Linked DNA regions of Homo sapiens: region 2 is linked to region 1. Evidence: fine-mapped expression QTL. A gene starts in region 1. The other region holds a variant in brackets. All regions are shown on one strand. Distances are from middle to middle.

Region 1 (11,109 bases):
CGACTTCCCTTTCACTCCTATCCCTCTTGTTGTTTCCCTGTATTCTGGGTTTCTATGCTGCAACAATCCCAAGGAACACTATTCATATAGAATATCTAACACAGCATGCAGCCCTGCTTACACTGCAGCCACACTGATCTAGCCTAGATTCCTACCAAATTTTCTCCTAATTACCAATACAAAAAGCTTACCCATTATTCAAAATCCAGCTCCAACACTTTATTCAAAATCCAGCTCCAACACTTTCTCCATAAAATTTTCACTGATCATCCCACCAGAAATTATTTCCTCAATCTGTGAGGGAGCATAGAGCAGTTGGTAACACATCTGAAACTTTTGCCTTATCATAAATCATTAGTACCTTTTACTCTCCTTTAGCATATGGTAAATTCCCAAAGAGCATGGACATTGTTCTACATATCTTTGCATTCTCCATGGTACCTTGCATATGGATGTCAATAAAGTTATTTTAATAATGAATAACTTTTACAGGCACTTTTTATTGTTGTTGTTTTATAGAGACAGGGTCTTGCTACATTGCCCAGGTCGGCCTCAGGTAATCCTCTCACCTCATCCTCCCAAAGTGCTGGGATTACAGGCATGAGCCACCATGCCCGGCCTCTATAGACACTCTGAATCACTGCTTTACATTTCCATTTTCTTTCCTCTTAAAGGATAAAAAAAAGTCCACTGAGAAAAGTAGTATGAATCATATTTCAGTTTAAAGTTTGATTTATCTTGTGGTTCGGTTATATACTACTGCCTTCTTGTGCCTCCATCTCACTAGATCCAATCAGAAGGAGAGAGAATGAAAGTTAAGAGTTAGTTATTAGGGAGATGACGACCTCTGGCATGCTAGTGAGCCAACAAGTAACCAGCTAAGTAGGAGTGTGTACGCACACATGTATGAGAGAGAGAGACAAGAGACAGAGAGAGAGAATACTAGTTATCAGGAGAAGACCCAGCTGGAAAGATCTCAAATAATTTGAATCATCAAAGGTATCTGAACAGGAAAGTGATATGGTGAGAACTGCATTTTGATCTAGAGCTCAGATCAGAGCTAAGAGATAAAAATAGTGAAATCATGGGAGTTAAGACTGTCCCAGAAAAAAATATACAAAGATAGAAAAGGGCTGAAGATAAAATCCTGAGAAATAATTCTATTGGGGACAGGGGAGGGAAGTCAGTGAAAAACAAACGTGATTTGAGAGAGAGAAGACCAAGGAGGGAATGTCATAAAAACCAAAAGAGAAGCAGAGGAAATGAGCAATAATACCAGAAAAGAGGATAAATATTATCAGAGAAGAATCTCATTTGATAATCAGGAGGTTGCTAATACTTTTATGACTGACAGGTTCTATACAATTGGGTGGGAGAGAAGAGTAAGCCATATCATTAAGTTAAAGGGCAAAGAATTATAAAGGCAGCAAATGGGGGCTGCTTTTCCAAGAACTGTGACAGTGAGAAACAGAAGTTTGAGGCAGAGGCAGAGTACAAGTTTGTATGAGGAGGCAGAGTGCAGTGGCTCACGCCTGTAATCCCAACACTTTGGGTGGCCGAGGTAGGCGGATCGCTTGAGGTCAGGAGTTTGAGACCATCCTGGCCAATATGGTAAAATCCCGTCTCTACTAAAAATACAAAAATAAGCTGGGTGTGGTGGCGTGTGCCTGTAATCCCAGCTACTCAGGAGGTTGAGGCAGGAGAATTGCTTGAACCTGGGAGGCGGAGGTTGCAGTGAGTGGAGATCCACACCACTGCACTCCAGCCTGGGCAACAAGAGCGAAACTCCATCTCCAAAAAAAAGAAAAGTTTATATGACGCGACATATGAACTTTCTTATAGGCATAGGAGAAAAAAGGGAAACTGAAAAAAAAAAAAAAAAAGTAAGAGGGGACATACCACCAAGTCCTGGGGGGAAGATGAGGACTGAAAAAGAACAAGCAGAATGAGACAATTTGGGAGGTAGCATGGAACAGAGAAGAACATAGGAGAAACAAGAAAAATGTTTGGTATCGACCAAGGAAGTTAAGGGCACTTCAAATAGCTGGGTAAAGTAATGTACTAAGAATTAAGAGGGGTGAGGCTCAGCAAGAAAAGGTTTAAACAATTGCTGTTTGGGGTGGAACAATAAACTGGAAATGAAAAAAATGAGCACTAAGGGCCCAGATGATAATTGCAAAAGAAAAGGAACAATCACAATTACATGTTCAAAGTAATCTAAAACAGAAGATAAAATTATAATATCAGATCCCTACAAATGTTCTACAGACTCACTCTGTAAGGAAAAACAACAAAGATAAAGTAGTTACATGGAAAGGTTTTCAGAGATACAAAACCCCTAAGCAGTTAACTGTATATGTCAAAATGTGCTACACAAATCTTTACATAGCTGAAAGACTTCTAAGATCCAGCAATAGTCCACTTGCTTTAAACAGACAATAAAATTATTAGAGTCAAATTCCAATATTAAAAAAGAAAAGCAGCTAGACATGGTGGCTCACGCCTATAATCCCAGCACTTTGAGAGGTCGAGGAGGGTGGATCATGAGGTCAAGAGATGGAGACCATCCTAGCCAACATGGTGAAACCCTGTCTCTACTAAAAATACAAAAATTAGCTGGGCGTGGTGGCGTGCGCCTGTAGTCCCAGCTACTCGGGACGCTGAGGCAGAAGAATCGCTTGAACCCGGGAGGCGGAAGTTGCAGTGAACCAAGATCGCACCACTGAACTCCAGCCTGGCAACAGAGCGAGACTCCGTCCCCCTCCAAAAAAAAAAAAATTAAAAAGAAAGAAAAGCTGGTGGTTTTTTTTATGACATTGGCTTCTAACTTCTAAGTTACACATCAAGAAAGTTCACTAGAGTCACTGAGTCACTTACTTTTTTTCAAAATATTATCACCTTCCCTTTATTTGTAAATGTTCAAGTTAAAACACTTTTTAAATTCTTGTGAGCTTTTAAACCTAAACCCTAAGTACCCCGTTTTCTGTATATTCAGGCAGTTTTCCCATTCACAGGTCTGTGCTGTGGATGTAGATTCAGAATTTCCACAAGTACTTAACTAATATGAACCAAAGTAGCTTCCACAGGTAAGTACTTAACTAATATGAACCAAAATAGCTTCCACAGGTAAGTACTTAACTAATATAGACCAAAGTAGCTTCTCCTCCAAACAATCCTTTGTGAGGTTTTGTAAGTAGAACAGTGACTTACTCTTTTCTGAGAGTTATTTTTCGGGAGAAAAAGACCTTGCTTTATATCCAGGTAATCAACAAGTCAAAATTTTCCAGAATCACGGACAAAATTACTTCTTAAACACGTTTCAATTAATAGCATACTGTTTATGTAAACACACAGATGCATTAATAGGAGTCTTCAGAAATAAAACAAATTTTCTTTCCTTTTCTTTTTTCATTTAGAGTCTCACAGAGCAGTGGCGTGATCATAGTTAACTATAACCTCTAACTCAGAATTATCAATAGCACCTATATTGTAGGAACACTGTGAAGATTAAATTAATGTATCTAAAACAATCCTCCCACCTTGGCCTCTCAAAGAGCTGAGATTACAGGAGTGAGCCACTGTGCCCAGCCCACAAATTTTCTTTCTGAAGTAAAGCATGAGAAATTTGCTATACCATTATAAAAGAGAAAAGCAGAGTGGGATGGGTTACTCAATTCCCCGAATTAGTTTTCTTAAAGAAAGAGGGGGAGTAGTTATAGTAATTTATTGTATTATACTAATTAAGTGCCAGGCACTGTTTTAAGCATTATAGATATATTAACTAATTTAATCTTCACAATGTTCCTATGATACAGGCGCTACTGATAATGCTGTCCTACTCATAAGGAAACTTGCCCAAAGTCATACAGCTTTTAAGTGGTGGCTATTCAGGGAGTCTAATTCTAGGGCCCCTCTCCCTTTTAAAAGGTGATATACAGTACTGCCTCTTAGTAAAATTTGTTCTTCATTTTATGAGACAGTCCCATCTATTAGACAATCAAATATCAGTGGTCTAAAGAAGACATGATGGTTAGGTTCCTGTATATTTTCTATTATTTTCTAGTATTCATCCACATTGCCTGAAGGCATGAGAGGCCTCAGGAAGAAGTGGTTCATCCTTTGTATTAGGCTGGTGCAAAAGTGACTGCGGTTTTTGCCATTAATATTATGTTCCCTGAGCTATTCACTACCCCCATTTCTGTCCGTACTTTTAAGGCAAATGATTAACTACTACAGACACATACACAGAACAGACTAGTTCTAAGTCTTCCTCATTCTTCTCCAAACTTTTTAACTGGTGGAGAATCTGCCCCTGTGGGCCTAGATCTCCCTTGCTATATAAAACTAACTTTAAATACTGTCTTTGACAAGGTAACTTTCCTGCGCCCTAAAACGATGGTATCGCTTCATCAGTTGTCATCTGGTTGTGTCCTGTAACTGGGTGGGGGTTAGAAAGCAGTTTCCTAAGGAAAAAGATGAACTCAAGAATGGGAGAATTAGGAGGGAAGGTGTAACACGCAGAAAAGGGAGGAAGGGGGGTGGAGTGGGAGGCACTGCTGGTCTGACTCGGAATTTCGTGCAGACAGAACGAGAACAGAAATGGAAGAAGTGGGGGGTCGAGTCACTGAAACCTGTTAGGCAGCATTTTCTTGGTTTTTCCTTTGATGCGTCTTAGACATTGCTTTACAAGAAACTGAGACCTAACAGTACTAACGGCCCAGCTGGTCAGGACACCGCACGACCATTCATCTCCCGCTCCCGGCCAGAGCTGGTCCCTTGAAAGCATCGCTCCTCGCCAGCGCTCAGCCAGGCTTTTCTCCCAGCGGCCAGTCGGCGGGAGCGACCACCAGAGCCTGTCGACCCCAAGGCCACAGACCCGCGTTCCGGTACTCGCCGGCTGCCACCGCGGCTTCCCTGCCAGTGGACAACCCCTGAACACTCCCACACTTCGCAGCTGAACCTGAGCCGTGCCTTTCCCAAAGAGCCGAACCCGGCGGCCACACAGTAAAACCCAAGCTGGAGTGAGGGTCTTACCTTTAACAGATTAGACGTCGCCATGTTCTTTAACTTGGACTCTCGCGAGACGACGCGAGAATTCGTGGCGCTCCCGGCCAGGCCTTGACCGGAGGCCGGAGCTCCCACCAGGGCCCAGGGCCCGTCGGCCCGCACCAGGGTGTGGTGGGCGCTGGAGCAGCGCGCCGACAGCGCTGACCTCGTCCCAAGCACCAGGAGCTTCCTCACTCTTCTCCCCTACATGGTCACCGGAGCTTCCCCACGCGAAAGACCTCATGCACGCGCTCAGGAAGACCGGAACGGCGAATGCTGAGAAGGTAACGGGAGCCGACCTGACTTGGAAGAGGAAGCATCGACTCCACGAGCCTCCCCGACTCCTTCGGATTAGCCTTTGTGGTTGCACCCGCCGCGGCCACCTGCAACGAATTTAGCTCGGCTTAGGCCCCGCAGCTCAGGTTCCGCGGCCACGTCACGTGACGCGAGGGCGGGGACGCGCTCGGGAGCGAGCGTGGGAGCCTGGAAGCCTCGGTGGGTCCCGAGGCTGCAGCGAGGCCGGGACCGTGCCCTCTGCTGGCGGGACCTGGCGTTTTCCGGCACCCCGCCCCAAATCCCGGACTCGGTGTTAAGGGAGGTGCATTGTCCTGAAATGCTTACAACAGCTGTCTTCAATAACTCGTGCATAGAATGCGCCCAGTAAATATGTGTTGACTGCACAAGCGTGATGACTCTTAATATTTCTATTCAGGAATGCTTGGCACTTAGATAAAATATTGTTCAGTGCTTTGGGAGGCCGAAGGGGGAGGATCACTTGAGGCCAGTTCAACACCCTCGTCATTACAAAAAAGTTTGAAAAAAAAAAAAAAAGATTGTTTAGAGAATGAATATTAATCTTCGATTTTCTGAAGGCACATTATCCTAGAAGATCCTAAACCATAAGCCTCCGGGTTTTACCCCTTCAGACCACACACCACTGGCCAATGAGATAATATAATTTACATGTGGAACCTGCAGGATACCTGGTATTGTATTTTGCAGGTTTACAAACAGCCTTCATACGGCCATAATGCGTAGAAATAAGTAAGAGCTCTGGACTAAGAGAAGAGGGATGGGCCTACTTAAAGAATCCAATCAAGTAGTTAATACTTGTTTGAGCACTTGTATATACTAGGCACAGGAAATACAGGATTAAATAAAAGAGAAGACCCCTGCTCGTTTGGAGTTTATGGCCTAATAAGGTAGCCAAATGTTAAGGATGGCTACACAAGTCAAATATTACTTAGTGGGAGTTGTGATAAATATTGCAAAGAGGCCGGGCGCAGTGGCTCACGCCTATAATCCCTATAGGGCCCCGTGGCTCACGCCTATAATCGGCACTTTGGGAGGCCGAGACACCTGCGGTCAGGAGTCCGCGACCAGCCTGGCCAACATGGTGAACCCCTGTCTCTACTAAAAATACACAAATTAGCCGGGCATGGTGGCGGGCACCTGTAATCCCAGCTACTCGGGAGGCTGAAGCAGGAGAATCGCTTGAACCCTGAAGGTGGAGATTGCAGTGAGCCGAGATCGCGCTATTGCACTCCAGCCTGGACGACAGAGCGAGACTCTTGTCTCAAAAAAAAAACAAAAAAAACAAAAAAAAACTACAAACAAAAAAATACAGTGTGCACTTGAGAGCGTAGGAAGGGAAAGGAAACTAGTATCCTAATCTCCATCTACCCAAGCCACCCTTTGCTTATGCTTAACTGAACCTTAAGACAACTTTTGAGAGCTTGATTTCAGCGTCCTACTGTCAACCGAAGCATTCCAATTTTCCTAACTCACTTGTTCTGGAAACACCACTGCTACAACTCTGACTTCAATAAGTTCTCCATTCCATTGACCCCACCTGTTATCTGCCATCTCCTGTTTTCACTCTTTCTCATCCAATTTAGAATCGGCCCACTGTTATAAAAATGTTTAAATATTTAAAATGCTTAAATATTTATTTCTTAAAAATAGCGCAGGCACATAATACAAAATTCAGAAGGTGCTAAAAATAATACAATCAAAAGTAGTCTTCCTTCGACTTTCTGGGGTGATGTAATGTTCTATATTGTGGTAGGGACTTCAGTTATTCAGGTGTATGCACTTGTCAAAACTCAGCCAGTATACCCTTAAGATTTATGCATTTCAGCCAAGCACAGTGGTGCAATCCTGTAAGCCCAGCACTTTGGGAGGCGAAGGCAGGCAGATCACTTGAGCCCAGGGGTTCGAGACCAGCCTGTGCAAAGTAGCTATCGCTATAAAAAATAATAAAATTTTTAAAAAATGTGCATTTAATTCAAAGAGAAAATAGTTAACAAAATTTGAAGTTTAATGCTACCCATACTGAAGAATTTAGGAGTAAGTGAATCTATATTTATAATTTACTTGGAAATGTATCAAAAAATAAGATGAACTGATGGTTGGGTAGAAACACTGATAAAGCGGGCCTGGCGTGGTGGCTCACGCCTGTAATCCCTGCACTTTGGGAGGCCGAGGCAGGTGGATCACCTGAGATCAAGGGTTCAAGACCAGCCTGGCCAACATGGTGAAACCTTGTCTCTACTAAAAATACAAAAAATTAGCCGGGAGTGGTGGCGGGCACCTATAATCCCACCTACTCAGGGGGCTGAGGCAGGAGAATAGCTTGAACCCAGGAGGCAGAGGTTGCAGTGAGCCAAGATTGCGCCACTGCACTTCAGCCTGGACAACAAGAGTGAAACTCTGTCTCAAAAAAAAAAAAAAAGTATGTATATATATATATATATATATATATATATATGGCAAGTATAGTAAAATGTTAATGGTAGAGTCTAGGTGGTGGCTATGCTAGGGTTCCCTGTGTAAAACCAACTCATCTATATGTTTAAAATTTTTCATAATTAAATATTCGGGGAAAATTTTTAAAAAATAGGCCTGCCTTCCTCCACAGTCCCCCAGGCATCCATTCTTTCTTCTCATAGACAACAGTTATGTTTCTTGTGAATGCCTAGGACATTCTGTGCATGTATAAGCATTCATGTATGTATTATTTTTTCTCTCCCCACAAATGATGGTATACTACATATATTCTTTAACATATTTGTTTTCACTCAGCAGTATGGTATAAATTACTGAAAAAAAAATTTGTGCCTTTTTTTTTCACACTTTCTTTTCTTCTTCTTCTTTTTGAGACAGAGTCTTGCTCTATCGCCCAGGATAGAGTGAGGTGGCATGATCTCCACTCACTGCAACTCCCACCTCCCAGGTTCAAGCGATTCTCAACGCCTCAGCGGCCTGAATAGCTGGAATTACAGATGTGAGCCACCAAGCCCGGCTAATTTTTGTATAGAAATGGGGTTTTACCATATTGGCCAGGCTGGTCTCAAATTCCTGGCTTCAAGCAATCCTCCCACCTCAGCCTCCTAAAGCGCTGGGATTACAGCTGTGAGCCATCATACCTCACCTTTGACCTTAAAAGTCAAAGCTTTTAAGTTGTAAGAGGGGCTTCGTGAAATTATGTTGGCAAGTAGAAATGAGCATATGTTTCTTCTTATATTTATATAAGACATATATAAAAATCAACCATTCCTTCTTATATTTCATAGCCTCTTATGTGATTAATTACATGGGAAAATGCTCAGAATATAATAGGTAAAAATATAGGATGCAAAATTCCACATATGTGCCACAATTCCAACTTTGTAAAGAAAGAAAGCTACAGTTTTATTTCCTACTCTGAATAGTGGATAAACTGGAAAAAATATTCAAAATGTTACCAGTGTTTGTGAGTAGTAGAAAATGGGATAATTTTACTTCTATTTATTTAAAATCTTTTTAAAAATCACCTGCTGGCTGGGCACAGTGGCTCATATCTATAATCCCAGCACTTTGGGAGGCTGAGGTGGGCAGATCACCTGAGGTCGGGAGTTCGAGACCAGCCTGACCAAAATGGAGAAACCCTGTCTCCACTAAAAATACAGAATTATCCAGGCTTGGTGGCACATGCCTGTAATCCCAGCTACTTGGGAGGCTGAGGCAAGAGAATCACTTGAACCCGGGAGTGGGAGGTTGTGGTGAGCCGAGATCACGCCATTGTACTCCAGCCTGGGCAACAAAGAGCGAAACTCCGTCTCCAAAAAAAAAAAAAAATCACCTGCTAATTTAAGAAAATGTAGCCATCATGTTAAACCATAATACCTTACAAAATGAAAGTTCTCTATAAACTTTTCTCTCCCACCTCCTAAAATATCCACTGTTAGCCATTTGTTTTATTCTTCTCATTTGTTTTCTGTGTATGCAGTAAAATATATATAAAGGAGTTTGTCAAATGTGGCTGATCATTTACATCAAAATAACCTGGGGTGCTTATTTTAAAAGCAGATTTCTAGGCTCTACCCTCTGAAGATTCTGATTCTACAGGTCAGGAGTGAGGCCCCAAATCTACCTTTTCCCTAAGCATCCCAGGTGACTTTCCTTGTACACCAGTGGCCAAGAATTCTTGTGCATCAGTGGCCCAGAATTTCTCATAGAATACTTAAGAATGTGTGCTTTAGAACCAAACAGATCCTGCCATTTATGAGCTACGAGACGTTGGGTACATTACTTAACCCTGCTGAGTCATAGTTTCCTTGTCTGTATCTGTAATGTAATGTATTACAGTGGCTCACACCTGTAATCCCAGCACTTTGGGAGGCCAAGGCGGGCAGATCACCTGAGGTCAGGAGTTTGAGACTAGCCTGGCCAACATGACGGAACCCCGTCTCTACTAAAAATACAAAAATTAGCTGGGCATGGTGGTGGGTGCCTGTAATCTCAGCTACTGGGGAGGCTGAGGCAGGAGAATCGCTTGAACCCGGGAGTTGAGCAGTGGGCCGAGATTGCACCACTGCACTCCAGCCTGGGTGAGAGGGCGGGACTCTGTCTCAAAAAAAAAAAAAAGAAAGAAAAAGAAAAAGGAAAAAAATGTATTGCACGTGTAAGCACTCAGTAAATGTAGTAATAATAAGACCTAAAACATATAATGCTTACCATATGTCAGACACAGTTCTATGCACTTTACATAGATGAATACATTTGATGTAGGAATTTAATTCCTCCTTGTGGAGACCTTAAGTATCTTTTTTTGTTTGTTTCTTTTGAGACAGAGTTTCACTCTTGTTGCCCAGGCTGGAGTGCAATGGTGCAATCTTGGCTCACTGCAACCTCTGCCTCCCGGGTTACAGGCATGTGCCACCATGCCTGGCTAATGTATTTTTAGTAGAGATGGGGTTTCTCCATGTTGGTCAGGCTGGTCTCGAACTCCTGACCTCAGGTGATCCACCCGCCTTGGCCTCCCTTAGTGCTGGGATTACAGGCGTGAGCCACTGCGCCCGGCCTTAAGTATCTTTTAAACTTCACACCTGAGAAGAGGAAGAGTCAGGTAGCTGATGTGAATGATCCATCATTTAGAAGGGGAAAAATGATGATGGAAAGGATAGAAAGGAGAAAATGTGCTAGAACCATGTTCTTGATAAGGCAAGAGGATGGCACTTAGGGCACACATGGGGAGAGGTGCACCTTGGCTAGCACCATGGACAGTCACACCTACTAGGAGGATAGACACGAGACCGTCGATAGGCTCTTGGAAGTGAAGATTCTCTTCCGATTGCTTCTCTTCTCTAATTGAAGTTGGAAGCCAGGTCATGAGCTGATAGTGAGGATGCTGTGAGGTTTAAGAAGAAAGGAGAAAAGGAGAAGATGGGAAATTGTTATCTATGATGGTGGAAGAGGAAAGAGAAATATATAATGATTCCTGGGCATCCCTAAGTGCCAACTTGAGACTAGTTATCCCAGATTTTAATTGAGGTCTCTCAGCATAGCTAAGGAAATTAACATTCACCAGGGTTAAGTAATGTGCCTAAGGTCTCACAGCTCCTACGTGGCAGGACCTGTTTGATTCAAAAGACATATTCAGCCACTCGGGTGCAGGCGTAGAATTGGATGTAACCAAAGTTGGGGTTTTGCCGAGAGAGAATGATGGAGGGCATTGAGCATATATACAAGGGAGTGAGTATGATGATCGACCCTTGGATTTAAGCTGAATTAGGAGGCAAA
Region 2 (9,975 bases), 97 kb before region 1:
GCTGCCGGTCTGTGGACCAAAATGGAGAGCCACTGGAGTAGGCGAAGAAAAAAATATCCAAAAGAAGAATGTTTGAAACATTTATGCGATGGAGATATTTAAAAGGCAAAACACAGAGGGAAGGAGAGGATGGAATTCAGAAAAAGATAAAATAGTTGGTCTTGAGCAACAAGTGAGGTGATCTCTTCCTCTGAGACAGGCAGGCAGATGAAGATGTACATGATTAGAGGTAAAGTTTACAGGTGGAGAAAAGGCAAGTTAAGAGTTCATGCCTGAAGGCCTTATTTTCTCTGTTTATTTTTTCAAAGCAATATCATCTACTGAGAATTTAGGAGATAAGGTAGAGTAGGGGTAAATATTAATAATTATACATTTAGCAGCCATGGGAAAACAACATGTTAAAGTATTCCCAAGTTCCACTTATTTTTAAGACAGAGTCTCACTCTGTTCCCTAGACTGGAGTGCAGTGGCACAATCACAGCTCACTGCAGCCTCAGCCTCCTGAGTAGCTGGGACTACAGGTTTGTGCAACCAACCACCGCTGGCTAATTTTTACATTTTTGTGGAGATGGGGGCCTCACTATGCTGCCCAGGCTGGTCTTGAACCTGGCTTCAAGTGATCCTCCTGCTTCAGTCTCCTAAAGTGCTGGGATTAGAGGTGTGAGCCACACCTCGACCATCAACCACTGCTGAAGAAAAATCTAAACAGTATCAGTCTGGCTCAGTAATTACAGCATAATAAAGGAAAAAAGGAAATACTCTATTTCCTTTATTATTAAGTAAAATAGGAAGAAGCCATTAACACTCAGAGAAGTCTTCTGTTATTCTCTAGATAAGTAGAGCAAATCAAAGTTTGGATCAGCGCTCCTGAAGTTAGGCCATGACCAATCCACAAAGCAAGCTGTTACTCATTTTACGCACTCCAGGACATCACTATTAAAGATTTCTAAGCTTGGGTGTGTTAACTCTTAACATTTATATATGCACTTGTTTATATTTTTATATGCATGTATTTTGCTTTAATCAGATGTTCACAAAAGTCTAGAACTCAACTCTCACCATCAATTGTTAATCTAAATTGTCACCCTGCTCTGGGTTGTACACTGTCAAAACAGGAGTTCCGTGATATAAAAAGTCCATATTCTATTGTATAGCCCAGAATGGGGAATGGGAAATAAAGTCTCCACACTTAAAATGTAAAATATTGGCCGAGTGCGGTGGCTCATGCCTGTAATCCCAGCACTCCTGGATGCCAAGGGAGGAGGACTGCTCGAACTCAGGAGTTCGAAACCAGCCTGGGCAACATAGTGAGACCTCCTCTCCGCAAATAAAAAAAAAATTACCTAGGCAAATAAAAAAAAAATTACCTAGGTGGTGTGTGCCTGTGGTCCCAGCTACTCAGGAGGCTAAAGTGGGAGGATCACTGGAGCCCAGGAGTTCAAGGCTGCAATGATCTGCAATTGTGCCACTGCACTCCAGCCTAGGTGACAGAAACTCTATCTCAAAAAAAAAAAAAAAAAAAAAAAAAGAACTAAAACATTGAACTATATTCTCAGGCACATGTGCTATCATTCATTCAGTCCTACTATGTGCCCTTTTTACACTGAGGTTTAACAGGGCTGAATCCAACTTGATATTTTGAGGACCCTCTTTAAGAAAATACAAAACTTGTAGGGCTCCCCCTCCCAGAGCCTTGTACAAGGGGCCCAAAAGCTTAAGCTTATTTCTTGGTTTAAATGAAATCTGTTTCTTGGTTCAGATGAAATTTTATACTGAGAAAATACCTTCTCTAGCTTCATTTCCAAGTCAACTCCTCCCCCAACCCCAAACTCCCAAATGCCAGTTTAAGTCCAAGGTTGAGTTTAGAGTCGTTATGAAGTCAAATGTGTTCCTCCATCCAGTTGTCCAAAACATTTATTGACTACTACAGTAGGAACAAGAAATGATCCCTCAATGTAAAGGAGCTCTATAACATTTATTTATGAATCAATGAATGAATTAGTCTGGCCCTGTTGCCCAGGCTGGAGCGCAGTGGTGCGATCTCAGCTTGCTACAACCTCCACCTCCCAGGCTCAAGTGATTCTCATGCCTCAGCCTCCTGAGTAGCTGGGATTACAGGTATGTATTTTTAGTAGAGATGGGGTATTGCCATGTTGGCCAGGCTGTTCTTGAACTCCTGACCTCAAGTGATCTGCCCACCTCACCTTCTCAAAGTGCTGGGATTACAGGTGTGAGCCACTGCGCCCAGCCTGAAATTTCTTTTAAATTTAGTTCCTCTGGGTAATTAAGTCCCTGTATGCAATTCAAGTTTCTTATAGTCAAGAGTTTTTTCGATTATTAAATTGTTCACTTGATCAGTAACTAATTGCTATTATCTGTCCAGTTTCACAACCTTATTGCCAAACTATTTCTAGCTTAAAAATAAGTATTTCAGGCCAGACGCGATGGCTCACACCTGTAATCCCAGCACTTTGGGAGGCCGAGGCAGCTAGATCACGAGGTCAGGAGATTGAGACCATCCTGGCTAACATGGTGAAACCCTGTCTCCACTAAAACTGCAAAAAATTAGCCAGGTGTGGTGGCAGGCGCCTGTAGTCCCAGCTACTCGGGAGGCTGACGCAGGAGAATGGCATGAACCCAGGAGATGGAGCTTACAGCGAGCCGAGATCGCGCCACTGCACTCCAGCCTGGGTGACAAAGTGAGACTCTGTCTCAAAAAATAAAAATAAAAACAAAAATAAGTATTTCACAAATTTTCAAATATATCCAAAATGTGAAATGATTATGTTTTACATTTTTTACTTTTTTTTTTTTTTTTTTTTTTTTTTTGAGACAGTCTCATTCTGTCGCCCAGGCTGGAGTGCAGTGGCACAATCTTGGTTCACTGCAACCTCCGCCTCCCGGGTTCAAGCGATTCTCCTGCCTTAGCCTTCCGAGTAGCTGGGACTACAGGCGCGCGCTACTACACCCGGCTAATTTTTATATTTTTAGTAGAGACAGGGTTTCACCATGTTTGCCAGGCTGGTCTTGAACTCCTGTCCTCAGGTGATCCACCCACCTTGGCCTCCCAAAGTGCTGGGATTACAGGCGTGAGCCACTGAGCCCGGCCCATTTTTTACTTTTATCTGCTATAAAATTTGAATTTTGTTATGACATAGCCTATCTTAGTTGATGAATATATTAACCACTTTCAGGTTGGAATTTTTTTTTTTTTATTACCTCTTCCAGGCATATAGCCACATGCTATCATCAGTGGAAAAGCTACATTCCTGACTGCTCTCATTTTGAATTAGAATTTGAAGTCTAATATAAATAAGTGGGTTACTTTTCATATTTCTGATTCCTAAGGCTGGCTGAGATTAATTTACCTTCAAATTTAAAAATATACCTACTATAAAAATTTTAATTAAACTCTTTGTAACTATTTTATAGTAGAACATCAACATTTTCTGGATAGGTAAAAGCTTTTATATTACATTTTTATTTTGCAAGAAAATAAATTATACAACTTAAAAAATAAAATCCAAAAATTAAGCAGTTCATCAAAATATTTCAGCCTACTGCATACAGAAACTGCTACCACTTAAAATTGTACAGCATTATCATCTCAGTATGTAGTGGCACACATTCAAAATCGTATAGACCATATGAGGATAGATTACAACTTAGAAACTAAAATAAATTTGTTCAACACTCCAGACAACATATAGTGTAGATGACAGGAAAGCTCTCATGTAATGTTTATTTCACAAACATGACCTTGGAAGAATTCATAAGACAGCATCCCAGTCACTTACATGAGAA[C/A]AGAAAAACCAGCTTGAGTTTAAGATAGCAAATCTTTCTGTAAAACTAGCAAATCTTTCACCCAGACTGAAGTTTTAAAATTTGCCCTTTGAGCAGTGCTAGAGACATCTTACTGCAAATAATGCAAAATACTTTTTAACTACTCAGGTCATATTTTCTATTAAATTTAATAAAAAGTAAAAGAAAGAAAGCTAACATTTCATTTTTGGAAGGTTTAACATTTATGCACAAAATAAGAGCAAGAGACTTAAATAAAAAAGTTGACAGAACTCAGGGACCCCTCCAATAAATGTAAAAATTGGAAGACTTCAGAATTTATTTCAAGATCCTCATTTAATCATTGGAATAGTAATATTCTAATATTTATCTCATTGTGACCATCAAAATTTTTCTATATTTTTACTTCTTAAACTCTGTCTTATGTCTACTTACTCCGGCAACGAGATGGCAACACAAGTTAACATTTTCCAGATGGGATGTCTCTGTCTTTAAACTAGAAGATGGGTATTCAGAGGTTAAGATAGCCTCTGAAGTGTCTTATTGCCATACCACTAATTTTTAAAAATTAAATTTTTTTTTTTTTTTTGGAGGGGGAGGCTGGATTTTCTTTTCACTTAACTGCAGGTTATATCCCTGCTCGGCACCAATTTTAAGTGTACGCTGGAGAGAAGAGACCTGAATAAAGGATGCCAACTGTGATTCCAGACCTTTACAAACTGCTGGTAAGATTTTTTTTTTCATTTTTTTTTAAATTAGCAAATCTGTTGTTAAATTACTTAAAGAAAATTTAACAATGGCATAGGCACCTTGTCAACTAAATGATTTTCATAAACACCAAAAAGTAGTTAAAACTTTTGTATACATAACCAAAAAAAAAAAAAAAAGAAAACTGTACATTTACAGTATTTGCTGCTGTTCATTCCCCAAAATACAATTAGGACATAATTGGCTATTAAAAATTTATAAAATTTAATAAAAAACTTTGCTATGAATGTAGTGTTACCCACTTTTGCATTAAATTCACCTTCATAAATCAAAACATCATGACTCTCATTCTTAAATTAAATGACCCAAAATTAGAAGTTCCAAAAAAGTTCTGAGAACAATTATGGTTTAAAACAACAAACCTAAATTTTTAAAATGGACGGCAATTTTTCCTGTTTCCTCCTTTGGCATTCTTGTATTGGGACAAGCAAATACGCCAATGCTGAATTATCTGTTAAACATAAGGGCCACAATTACTACAAAATTATTTCTTCTAAATTCCAAATATACCCATTATGAACAGTCACCTAATTAGAGAAAACTGTACGTATTAATTTTAGTTTAATTCTTCACAATATGCTCGGTCTAATAATTGACATTTGCTACCTTAAAGTGTAAAATTTTAAACAAAATTCCAATTTCCTATAAGTTTCAGAACAGGCATTTGGCTATACTCAGCAAAACTCTAAATGTTTTAAAGTTGCTTTCCTTCCATTCAGCAGGCAGTTCACAAAGCCTCTTCGGATGGGGACAGATCCTACGAAATGCTCTTGAAAGCACTCCACTGTAACATAATACTGTATGCCTTTCTGTACTCCATTTCCTACTATCTTCAAAAACCATACTTTAAAAATATTACTTAACATCAAATAAGATATAAAATAATTTGCAAGAAAATTTGAAACGTGCACCACAATGAATAAAAATCCACGTTGAGCCATTCTTTCCTCAAGGGGAATCAATTTTCTCTTTCAAGTTGTTCACGTCCTCAAGTCCTAAAATTTCCACTACTCTGGGTATTCAGTTGCCAGCAACTAGTTAAGTTGCTACTTTGGATAGACTGAAAGGAACATGGTAAATGTTGCCTTCTGACGATTTAAAAAATGTTTATTTTTAAAATATATAAATATATATGTACATATATTTGGCAAGTTTACTGCTCGTATTAAGAGTGCAACAATTTTGCTTCTGTTTTTCAGGTCTTATGTTGTGGTTTTTCTCTTACCCCTAGGTGACTGATTCAAACCTGAGGCTACAAATCCCTAATCATGAGACCTTAAAATACCAAAATACTTCTATGCTACAGATTAAGAGATCAGTTACATAACTATATCAGAGCAGGAGATTTCTGTGTTGTTTTTAATAAATTCAGATATGGCATAATAAATATTAGGTATATAAACATTAAGTGTGTTAGTAAACACACAATATGTTTAGTAAACACACTTAATATGTTTGTTTTGCTATTTTGGCTCTGCAATCATAATGACCTACCTATCTCCATAAATTTTTTAAACTATTGAAGCAACAATTAATATAAGCTTCATTTTTCAAAACAAGCTTTCCAGCCATATTTAAAAAAAAAAAAACTCCTCATCATTTAACAACAACTAAAATAGCAGTCTCCTGCTTAAAGAAAACCAACATTTGAAAGTTGAAAATATTTAATACCATTTTTAGGTCACCATTAAAATCCAGTTATTATACTGAGCAATGTTTGAACAATTTGATACTATTAAATACTTAACTTCTCACCTACATCTGCCGTTTCCCAATGTTGCATTGACCAGCTCACTCTTTTCATCAAAAGAAACCAAGAGTGCTATTTCTAGTTTTAATTGCATTTTTTAAAAACAAAAGATAACAGCATTTTTCAGTGCATGAATATCTGAAGATCCTTCCTTGTGCAAGTACATTTTTTAAGAGAGGAAAAAAGAGAAAAAAGCAACAAGAACCCCACCCTCACCCTTCCCAACTGTATTTCTCCTGGTGGGTACAAATCAAATTCACTTTTAAAAGTTGATAATGGGCTCTTCATGAATGCAAGTTTCTCCACAAAACAGCATGCTGTCAAAGAGTGTGCAACATGAAGGGAATGCCATCATGCTAACTAATGTGATTGGCAAAATATAGTTGTTTTTGTAAGGTAAGGCAGAGATTTTAATATTTATGTAATCAAAGTCCAAATAAACCTTTCTCCAGCACAAACTTTACAACTTTCTGCCCAAGCACTCCAAAATTTGGGTTCTAAATATTGTCCATGATATTCAAAATTATGCCATATATATGAAAGTGTTGATATCAGATTCATCTCTTCTGATGTATTTGTGCTCTATTAGCCACTCTATTTGCTCTTTTATCATTTTCTTTTGTGGCAAGAACATGTTTTTCAAAATTTCTACTAATTCAGTCTGCAGCTGAGCATTACTAATTTTCTTTCTCATTTTCATTATTTGTATGATAGCTTCCTAAAAGAAAAAATAAAAATAAAAGCGCATTAATATACGAAATTATTTTAAGTACAACAAACTGAAAAATGACTTTTTATGCATATTCATCCTCTATCCAACATCTACCCAAATGAATAATAATCACTAGGGGATTAATGTTGAGACTAGTATCTTTTACTTAACAAATAAAAACATCTTTTGTTTTCTCATGCCCCATAAAAGAGAATCTGCTTATTGGGGTGGGGGGATAGGGGAGGGATAAGCATTAGGAGAAACACCTCATGTAGATGACGGGTTGATGGGTGCAGCAAATGACCATGACACGTGTATACCCATGTAACAAACCTGCACATTCTGCATATGTATCCCAGAACTTAAAGTATGTATTTAAAAAAAATCTGACTATAGAGATTTTGAAAAATAAGGAAAAGCAAAATTACCTCTGCTTCTCTGCTGAAAGAAAACTACACCTAATGTTTTAATATTATTTCCTTCAATTCCTTTTTTCCCATGCCATTCACATTCTTAAAAGTTATCTTACCTGTGAAAACAATGTGTATATAACCTGGTATCATGTTAAACATTAATTAAAATATAACAAACCCCTTACACCAAATTTTTCCCTTGTATTCAGTTATTTCTTTGTATAGCAGTACAGGTCAGGTGGGGTCTGTTTTAAAAGTCATTAAGTAGTACTCTTTATATATTTACCAGATTAATTAATTATATTTGCTACAAATATTATCTTCAGTTTATATTGACTCAATTAAATGTTTTTAAGGTTTTTTTTTTCCCCTTCTTCTCTTTAAATACAGACACAAGGTTTTGCTATGTTGTCCAGGTTGGTCTTGAACCCCCAGACTCAAATACTCCCCTGCCCTGGTCTCCCAAAGTGCTAGGATTACAGGTGTAAGCCACGATGCCCAGTCACTTTTAAGTTTCTAAAGAAATAAATCTTTTTCATCTAGGTCATTTTATCAAAATTTTTCTTGATGATTTCCTTAATTACTGTTAAGTTTACAATAAGAGTTATCAGAAAATCATTAAATATTCTTTTCTCTTTTACCTTTTCCAGTACCAGCTCTCTCTTTACCCAACAAAAGGCATGTATATGCCGGGTGTGGTGGCTCATGTGTGTAATCTTAGCACTTTGGGAGGGTGATGTGGGTGGATTGCTTGAGTCCAGGAGTTTGAGAACAGCCTGGGCAACATGGCGAAACCCCATCTCTATAAAAAATACAAAAATTAGCCAGGCATGGTGGCGTGTGTCTGTGGTCCCCGCTATTCAGGAGGCTGAAGAAAGAGGATTGCTTGAGCCTGGGAGGTGGAGGTTGCAGTAAGCTGAGATCACACCACTGCACCACAGCCTGAGACCCTGTCTCCAAAACAAAAGGCATATATCTATCTTAGCACAGATTAGAGTTTGTTGTAAAAGAAATGTCAAAATAGAAAAAGAAGTAACATTTGCTTTTAACGTTTAAAAATATAATTTTGCTGCAAATCAACAGACTTGGGAGTCAGGCACTATTCAGTAAGAGAAAAACTCCTTCAACTTCCCCTATATAGATATGATAACCAGCCAGGGAGGGTGGCTCATGCCTGCAATCCCAGCAATTTGGGAGGTTGAGGTGGGTGGATCGTTTGAGTCGTGGAGTTTGAGACCAGCCTAGGCAACATGGCGAAACCCCATCTCTACAAAATATACAAAAACAAATTAGCTGGGTATGGTGGCACGCGCCTGTGGTCCCAGCTACGCAGGGGGCTGAGTCAGGAGGATCACTTGAGCCTGAAAGGCAGAGGTTGCAGTGAGCTGAGATTGTACCACTGCACTCCAGCCTGGGTGACAGAGTGAGACCCTGTCTCAAAAGAATAGAAAAATAGGCCGGGCATGGTGGCTCACGCCTGTAATCCCAGCACTTTAGGAGGCCAAGGGGAGCGGATTACGAAGTCAGGAGTTCGAGATCAGCCCGGCCAACATGGTGAAACCCATCTCTACTAAAAATACAAAAAATACAAAAAATAGCTCAGTGTGGTGGCGAGCACCTCTAATCCCAGCTACTCAGGAGTCCGAGGCAGGAGAATCATTTGAACCTGGGAGGTGGAGGTTGTAGTGAGCCAAGATCACACCATTGCACCCCAGCCTGGGCAACAGGGTGAGACCCTGTCTCAAAATAAAATAAAATAAACAAAAATAAATAAAAGATATGATGACACCAGAAGGTCAAGTGAATTCCTCTCACCCTTGATGGTATTCAGATACCAGGCTCCTGATCATCATAAATTGGGGTTTATGTCAGGGGTTCAGAGAGGAAGAAGGAAGAAGGAAAGTGTGTTCCTTCAGGCACTTGAAGATTACAGGAACCCAGAGGAAAAGCAGAGGCATTTGTAAACATCCCAGTTTCTCCTTAGATAGAGGTGAAGGTGGTAGTTAGAGAACCTAAGAGGAAAAGAGAGCAGAGGGACACTGGCCCTGGTCCCCATTTGATATGCTGGAGGTCACTTAAAGAGTAGCACAGTATGAGGGAAATAATCTGCACTTCTGACTCTCCCTCAGTTCCCAAGTGTGACAGCAAGAGTTTCGAGCTAATGGACCTGCCACAGGGCCTTTAATGACAGGGCAAGGTGATCCTGTCATTATTCTGCAGAGAACAATGACAGTGTGCCATGTAGGCCAAGGAGCCACACAGAAGATGTAGTGGAGTCTCAGAGGCTTCAAGAGCTCAGTAAGAGCAGGGGAAAGAGAGCAGGGAAGAGGCCATGGGGCCCTTAGCAACTAGAAAAAGAATGAACCATAAATTCATCTGCTGTAGACAACAGCAGCAGTTACCAACAGAAAGCCAAATTCCCAAAGATAATCAACTACTTCATAGCTGCCAAAAGCAAGAATCCAGGACACTGTCATAACTGCATAGATATGACACTCCCTTTACTGTCATTACCAGTCAAGCAAATCCCT

Direction of the effects. Positions count from the first base shown, and alleles are read on the strand shown. Sizes are in standard deviations (SD) of each study's normalised expression.
With allele A in place of C in region 2, the expression in monocytes after LPS of the gene that starts at base 5,509 in region 1 is lower (large effect, 1.8 SD a copy in Fairfax 2014).

What was found.
Region 2: its variant is fine-mapped to the expression of CUL5 in monocytes after LPS (Fairfax 2014, PIP 0.95). The same link has a PIP of 0.9 or more in NK cells, monocytes, monocytes after interferon gamma and neutrophils.

The regions. Positions count from the first base shown.
Region 1 is chr11:108,003,298-108,014,406 of GRCh38, reverse strand. It overlaps CUL5 (cullin 5), which reads right to left and starts at 5,509. Exons shown (of 19, transcript NM_003478.6): 1 at 5,035-5,509. The coding sequence starts at 5,058. RefSeq lists enhancers at 4,995-5,184, 5,285-5,384.
Region 2 is chr11:108,101,252-108,111,226 of GRCh38, reverse strand. CUL5 (cullin 5) reads right to left here. Exons shown (of 19, transcript NM_003478.6): 19 at 3,466-7,037. The coding sequence ends at 6,843. Among named protein-coding and RNA genes, the nearest start is that of ACAT1, 15 kb to the left of the region's middle. The variant C/A (reference allele first, on the strand shown) is at 3,805.